Homo sapiens: one gene and its partner. The protein of the gene in region 2 purifies or fractionates together with the protein of the main gene of each other region. This does not show direct contact. Each region holds a gene or a part of one and is shown on either strand. Other genes may lie near its edges. The genes, in order: PDLIM5 and NFATC2IP.

The links.
Region 1: the proteins of NFATC2IP (region 2) and PDLIM5 purify together in Homo sapiens (affinity purification with mass spectrometry; 2 studies listed by BioGRID and IntAct, with this or other methods). This does not show direct contact.

The regions. Positions count from the first base shown.
Region 1 is NC_000004.12:94,458,317-94,462,136, forward strand, and holds part of PDLIM5 (PDZ and LIM domain protein 5), read left to right. Parts: intron 1-3,820. UniProt on the Homo sapiens protein: May play an important role in the heart development by scaffolding PKC to the Z-disk region. May play a role in the regulation of cardiomyocyte expansion. Isoforms lacking the LIM domains may negatively modulate the scaffolding activity of isoform 1.
Region 2 is NC_000016.10:28,957,378-28,961,197, reverse strand, and holds part of NFATC2IP (NFATC2-interacting protein), read right to left. Parts: intron 2,616-3,820; exon of another isoform or gene 2,537-2,615; intron 2,482-2,536; coding exon 2,337-2,481; intron 2,208-2,336; coding exon 2,098-2,207; intron 1-2,097. UniProt on the Homo sapiens protein: In T-helper 2 (Th2) cells, regulates the magnitude of NFAT-driven transcription of a specific subset of cytokine genes, including IL3, IL4, IL5 and IL13, but not IL2.

The DNA of each region.
Region 1 (3,820 bases), on a different chromosome or scaffold from region 2:
AATGATTCACTTACTTTAATAATGCACATGAAATTCTTAGCAAGGTCTGGCAGTCTCTCAATTATCTTTTATAATAATATTATAAACTTTAAAAAGAAAACTATTTAGAGACTTGAAACATTAAATATTTAACCCCCGTAGTTGTAGGGAACATACAGTTATGGTTTTGTTTTGTTTTTTTAAACTTATTGTCCACTGAAATTAAGAAAGGAAAAAAAATCAGAAGTTTGTACTTAGCTGGGAATCTGCATCTTTAGAGTTCAAAACTGTGCAATTTTTCCTCTGATTAGGTATTATTATGTTGAACTCCAAAGGGTCATTTACATTCCTTTATAACACTGGAGCTCTGGTGTATCGAATTGTGTTATGAGATAAGCCACTAGCAGGGACTTGAACATTCCATTTTCTTTAGATTTTGTTGTATCAGCATGTGAATATGCTGAATACAACTTGTATCCTAAAGCATACAAGCTATAACATTTTCACGTTGGACTCAAATTTCTTCATCATCTGTATTGTATGAATTTTGTATACTGTTTTGTTGGTGGATTTCTAACATAAGATTGCCAGTTCCTGCTAGCTTTTTAAAAAGATCCTCAGGTTGCTGTAGCTGGATGATCACATGTCATTTAATTTCCGATCCTTAAAATGGAGTGCGGGCTACCTAAGTTTGCAGGCTGTCTTTTTATGATCCTGTGTTTATGGAATTGCCCTGAAGCCATGGAATGTGAGGATGGGTTTCATTGTAGCAGTGTGGGTTTGTTGGTTTTTGCCAGTATATTTTATAACAAGAAATAGGAGACTTGTTGGATAATTCAAGGCTATATTTTGGCCAGTTGATAAAGATTATATATTTGTGAGTAACATCTTTTAAGTTGTTATATCCTAAAGTTGAAATACTCTGCTGTGTGTTACTTTCTCATTATGTTTGGGCTCTTTTCTTCACTGTCAATATTTGGATTACCTGAAGATGATATCCCAATTCTCTGTAAACACATTTTAGATGTTTCTTTAAGAGATAAGAATTAGGTCAAACTTTTTAACATCTAAATAACAATGACTTTGATTCTCAAGAGTTAGGGGAGGATAAATTGTTATAAGCTTGGACAAAATTCTAATTGGATTTGAAAAGCAGAAGAAACTTACTATTGCTTGGATTATGGAGCCCTGTTTGGGAGTCTAACACAGAACAGAGAAGGACAGAATTGTGAAACACTTTGCTATGAATTCATTGATTCAGTAGTTATAGTAATACTTCCTAGAAGCCACTGAAGAAGATACAAAGTGGGGAGTACAAAGGTTGGATGGAAAAGAAATAAGCACAGTGCTATAGAACTAGACAGTGTCGTAAGACCTGTCACAAGTCAATATTCTATGAAATGACAGATTCTGATAAGTGTTTCTCAGTTTCAGTGGGTGTAAATCTTTTGTTTGTGGGGGTTGGTTTCCTTTAGGAGAAGTTAATTGAACTGATCCTCAAAGGATGAAATTTAAACACCTCAAAGTCAGCATTTCTCCGTGTTGTCCAGTGCCTAGTGAAGATGAAGACTTTTCTTGCCATTGCTTGACTCCAAGTAAAGCTGTGAATGTAGTTGAGCGATTCTCCAGACCTGCCAGCTGCAGTTTCCCTCCTACCGGAAGACAGAAAGACTTTCAGTCCTCAAGCTGAAATGAGAGAGCCATCCTACCTTGAATAAATGGGCCCATTGTTAATTTTAAGCTCTTGAGTATTTTCTTTTATATTCCCTCCAAGCTACCCTGTCATTATGCCAAGTTAGAAAATTAATTTAGTTTGTATAACTATATGATGTATATTTCACATGTGTGTTCACTCTGCTTTAAAAATATTAATTACCTTTTGTGTGAAGTTCAGAGACCTGTCTTTTCCCATGTGGCAGTTTTATATGTTTTGTGGTCACAAATGTCAGGAATCTCAATGTAATTCTGGATAAATTTTTCTGCTCTATGATTTGTAAAGAAATGAAAATCTTATATTTTTTAATTGAAAATTAGTAGTTTTAGAAAAAAACGCACTTATTTGATTTTAGTAAACGTTGGGCATTTTGAAAAGTTATTCAGAGAAATGTTACTGGTAGGCAGGACTTTTGTATCTGATGGAGGAAACCGATGTAGGGTTTGGATAAAATAAGACTAGCAGGCTGGGCACAGTGGCTCACTCCTGTAGTCTCAGCATTTTGGGAGGACAAGGTGGGAGGATCACTTGATACCAAGAGTTCAAGGTTACAGTGGGCTGTAGTCATGCCACTGTACTCCAGTCTGTGCCACAGAACCAGACCCTGTCTCAAAAAAAAAAAAGAAAAAAAAAAAGGTAAGAATAGCACTTTAGACCTTGGGAAAGAACGTTTTCATGTAACTATTCATCTACTCGTGAGTTAGGTATATCTACCTACTTAAACTAAGAATAGATAGATAATAGATAATGTACAGCTGTATATTGGAATGACTTGGATTTAAATCTTAGCTGGAAAATCAGTTCATTAATTTGAGCTTCTGATTTTCTTTGATGTATGGGAAATGCTTTATAAATTAAAAAGTATACAGGTAGATTTGATTATTATTAATAATTTGGAGCCTGTGAGCTTTCAATTTTTTTTAGAACTTCTGAGGCAAAGAGCTTTTCTTTATGATAGTTGCTAGTCACACTACATGTGAATACACAGTTGAACAGTGGTCTTTGTCTATGACATCCTGTTAGCAGTAGTTCTTACCCAGATTCCCATATACCACAGGACCAGTTATATCTTTTTCCCCCAGTTACAACTGTATTGAGGACAAATCAGTTATGATTTAGTTATTTCTAGAAGCAAACGTTGCTTTAGACAAAAAAGGAGTTATTTAGCATCGTATGAGAGAGAATTATGTTTCAACTTTGGCAGATGAGACTCTAGGCCTTTATTTCAGTATCTGAGATGCAAAAAATATTGAGTACGTGACATAAAATTTGACAAAACTAGATATTAGCATGTGAAATAACAATATGTGGATCTGTTTGCAAATAAATGACCTAATGGAAATGAAAAGAGAAAACATTAAGTAACTAAAGAGCAGTGACCATGGTGTCTACTGATTCTTTAGGTATTCTATGTGTTGGGCCACTATATAGTCTTGTTGAGAAGGCAGGTTTGGTTCCTTAATTAACAGAGAGGGAAAAATCACTTTTCTAGCGTACTTTGTTTTTATTAAGAGGTTTTTTTTTTAAAGGTAATAAACTAAGAATGGACAAAGCAGAGAATATTGAATGAGTATCCCCTTATTCCTTCACCTTTCTTATTTTTTTGTTTCCTGTTTAAGTATAGTTATCTACCCTTCTGTAAATACTCAGATTTCTTTTATAGCTGATGTTGTCACCCATTTTTTATGACAATTACTAGAACAGAGTTCACCAACCTTGTTGGCATTTAGTAACTGGACTCCCAACTGGGCTAAGCAGTTGTAGTAAATGTCCCTAATAGGCGTAAATAGAGGAGAGTAAAATGAACTGGAAATGTTAATAGGAGGGAATGAGAAAGAAAAAGTTAGATGAGAGAAAAAAATAAAGAGGACTTTTTAAAAGGCTGCAGCGTGTCACCCAGGCGGGAGTGCAGTGGCGCGATCTCGGCTCACTGCAACCTCCACCTCCTGGGTTCAAGCAGTTCTCTGCCTCAGCCTCTTGAGTAGCTGGGATTACAAGCATTCGCCACCATGCCCAGCTAATTTTTTTGTATTTGTGGTAGAGACAGAGTTTCACCATGTTGGCCAGTCTGGTCTCGAACTCCTGACCTTTGATCCAGCCACCTCAGCCTCCCAAAGTGCTGGGATT
Region 2 (3,820 bases):
CGCCAGCATGCTGGGCTAATTTTTGTATTTTTTGTAGAGGCAGGGTTTCACTATGTTGCCCGGGCTGGTCTTGAACTCCTGAGCTCAAGCAATCTGTCCATGTTGGCCTCTCAAAGTGTTAGGATTACAGATGTGAGGCACTGTGCCTGGCCAAAGCTGCAAGAATTTTGAGGTGTATGTTAGGAAAAACCTAGACTGCCTTGAAGAGACTGCTGGTAGAAATATGGACATTAAAGGGAATGTCCCTGCAGGCTCACAAAGAGGAGAGGTGCAGAGAAATCTCCTATCATCTTAACAGGATGCATATATTGTTATGAACAGAAGGCTGCTAGAAATATGAATATTAAAGGTGTTTCTGGTGAGGTCTCTGGAGGAAATGAGGAATGTGTTATTGGTAACTGGAATAAAAGTTTCCAATAAAGGTGGCGCAATCATGGCTCACTACAACCTTGATCTCCCAGGCTCAAGCAATCCTCCTGCCTCAGCCGCCTGGGGAGCTAGGATTACAGGTGCTGGGGTTACAGGTGTGAGCCACTGCACCTGGCCCAATTTCTCACTTTTGAAATGGGAATGTCTATCCTATGTCTGTCCCATCACTGTATTTTAGAAGCAAATAACTTATTTTCTAGATTTCACGGGTCCGCAGAGAGAGAGAGAGAGGAATTTTGTCCCAGAATGGACCATACCAAGTCTCATCCAAAACTGATTTAATGATTTAGAAAATAAGATTGGGACTTCTTGAGTTGATTATATTTAAATGAGATTTTGGGCTTAAGAGTTGATGCTGGGATGGGTTAAGACTTGTAGGGATATTGGAATGGGATGTATATATTTTGCAGATGGGAAGGCCATGAATTTGGTGGGGGCTAGAGAACAGTGTGTTAAGGGTTGAACTGTATTCCCCTGAAAAGGCACTTTGTGGTCCTAACCCCTAGTAAATGTGAATGTAACCTTATTTAAAGTAGGGACTTTGCAGATATAATCAAGTTGAGATGAGGTTGTGCTTGGTTAGAGTGGGGCTAGCCCAACATGACCTATGTCTTTCCAAGAAGAGAGACGAACACAGACAGAGACACATGGAGAACACCGTGTGATCACAGAGGGAGAGACTGGAGTGACACAGCTGCAAGCCAAGGAACTCTGGCCACCAGCAGAAGCTAGAAAGAGGTAAGGAAGGTTTCCACTCAGATTCTCAGACGGAACCAGGCCCTGCCAACACCTTCAATTCAGACTTCTAGGCTCCAGAAGTGTACAGGAATAGGTTTCTATTGTTTTAAGCCACCCAATTTGTGTATTTCGTTAACAGTAGACTTAAGAAATGAATGCAGCAGGCCAGGCGCGGTGGCTCACACCTGTAATCCCAACACTTTGGGAGGCCAAGGTGGGTGGCTCACTTGAGGTCAGGAGTTTGAGACCAGCCTGGCCAACATGGTGAAACCCTGTCTCTACTAAAAATGCAAAAATTAGCCCAGCACGTGCACCTGTAATCCCAGCTACACGGGAGGCTGAGGAAAGAGAATCACTTGAAACTCGGAAGGCAGAGGCTGCAGTGAGCCAAGATCATGCCAGACTTCAGCCTGGGCGACAGGGCGAGACTCTATCTCAAAAAAAAAAAAAAAAAAAAAATGACTGCACCAAGTTGCTTATTCCACCTCTCTAGAACTCAATCTTCTTATTGCCAAATGAGGATAACAACAGTGCTTTGTGGCCCACATCAGATTGTTGTGAAATTAAATAAGATCCTGAATGTGAGGAAATTATCCTCAGCACGGGGACTAGCACTTAGCCGTGTGGCCTTCATTGTTATTTTGATGGGTTTTATTGATTACCGTCTAAGGGTCCTTTCTGTTTTAATCAGAAGGAGTCAGGAGACCGAGGGAGCACCCAGACTAGGGCAGAGGGTACCAGTAGAAGCGGGGAGGGAAGTTGAACGATGGGTTTTCCCACTACCTAGGATGGCTGGGAACCCAAGAACATGGAGGGCAGTGTCTCCTGCAAGTCAAGATTAGGGGAATCCATCCTCCATTAACTGACAAGAGAGACAAGAGGCAGCAGAGGACAGGGTGAGGGGCGTGGAGAGCCATCTCTCCCACTCACTCGAGACAGTGAGACTTCCAGTGTCTGGTGTTTCTCCTTTCCCTGCACCCGGAGCTGGAGCTGTTGGGACGTCTCTGTGGCCTCTGGAGAACTTGTTAGTACCACACAGTCTGTGGGAGGCAGAATCAGGAAGCCAGGGCTAAGTGGGGGCTTGGAAGCAGGGCCCGTGCTGAACCTCTCCCCATATCCCCTTCCCCTGGCAAATGCCTCAAGGCCCCACCTCCCTGCCTTCCTCTCACCAATGATGTCAGCCACTCCGAGCTTTAGGGTCCTGGGAGTGGCAGTAGGTGATAGCTCTGTCTCTCCAAAAAGCAAAAGGATCCTGCTTGGGGACACCCCAAGGTGGGTGGCCATGTGGTCCACCACACTCTGCAGGGGCTCCGACTAGGGATGGGGACAACAAGCAAAAGAGGTCTTCCTGCCTTGAAATCCATGCCCCCAGCCACACCACCCAAACACAAGCTCTGGCCTTAGCTACTTGCTAAGCTCCTCAGCTGTGAGTTTCATCATATTTACCTGGCAAGGTATAGAATAAAATCGTGTCAGCAAGGGGTACAGGCGAGTAACACAAAGAAATATAGCAGCCATGGGTTAGAACAAAGAAAGGGGTGGTGGGGATTGCAGCAAACTGGAATTCACATGCCACCTAGACAGGCTGGCTGTTACGCAGCTCCAGCTGATTGGCACTGTGTGGGAACGTGGGCCAGTATGACATCTTCCTATATTTTTCTTTTTTTTTTTTTTGAGACGGAGTTTCGCTCTTGTTAACCAGGATGGAGTGTAGTGGCGCAATCTCAGCTCACTGCAACCTCCGCCTCCCAGGTTCAAGTGATTCTCCTACCAGGCTGGTCTTGAACTCTTGAATTCGGGTGATCCACCTGCCTCGGCCTCCCAAACTACAGGGATAACAGGTGTGAGCCACCGCACCTGGCCACATCTTCTTATTTTTTAAGAGAAGCCAGAAATCTGGACCTTTTTTTTTTCTTTCTATTTTTAGTAGAGGCGGGCTTCACCATATTGGCCAGGCTGGTCTTGAACTCCTGATCTCAGGTGAGATCTGAGGCAGAGTCTCGCTCTTTCATCCAGGCTGGAAGGCAGTGGCACCATGCCCAGCTAATTTTTGTATTTTTAGTAGAGATGGGGTTTCACCATGTTGGCTAGGCTGGTCTCGAACTCCTGACCTCAGGTGATCTGCCTGCCTTCACCTCCCAAAAGTGCTGGGATTACAGGCGTGAGGCACTGCACCCGGCCAGAAATCTGGACCTTTGTATGAAATCACCCATCACAAAGGTGACAACAAACTCGTATATTTTTAAAGCACTTGGTCAGGCATGATGGCTCACACCTATAATCCCAGCATTTTGAGAGGCCGAGGCGGGAGGTTTGCTTGAGGTCAGGAGTTCAAGATCAGCCTGAGCAACAAAGCAAGATCCCATCTCCATTTTTTTTTTTTTTTAAGAGACAAGGTCTTGCTCTCTCACCCAGGCTGCAGTGCAGTGGCATGATCACAGCTGACTGCAGCCCCCAACTCCTGGACTCAGAAGATCCTCTTGCATCAGCCTCCCAAGTCGCTGGGACTACAGGTATGTGCCACCATGCCTGGTTAATTTTTTTATTTTTAGTAGAGACAAGGTCTCACTATTTTGCCCAGGCTGGTCTCGAACTCCTGGCCTCAAGTGATCCTCTCACCTTGGCCTCCCAAAGTGCTGGGATTACAGGAATG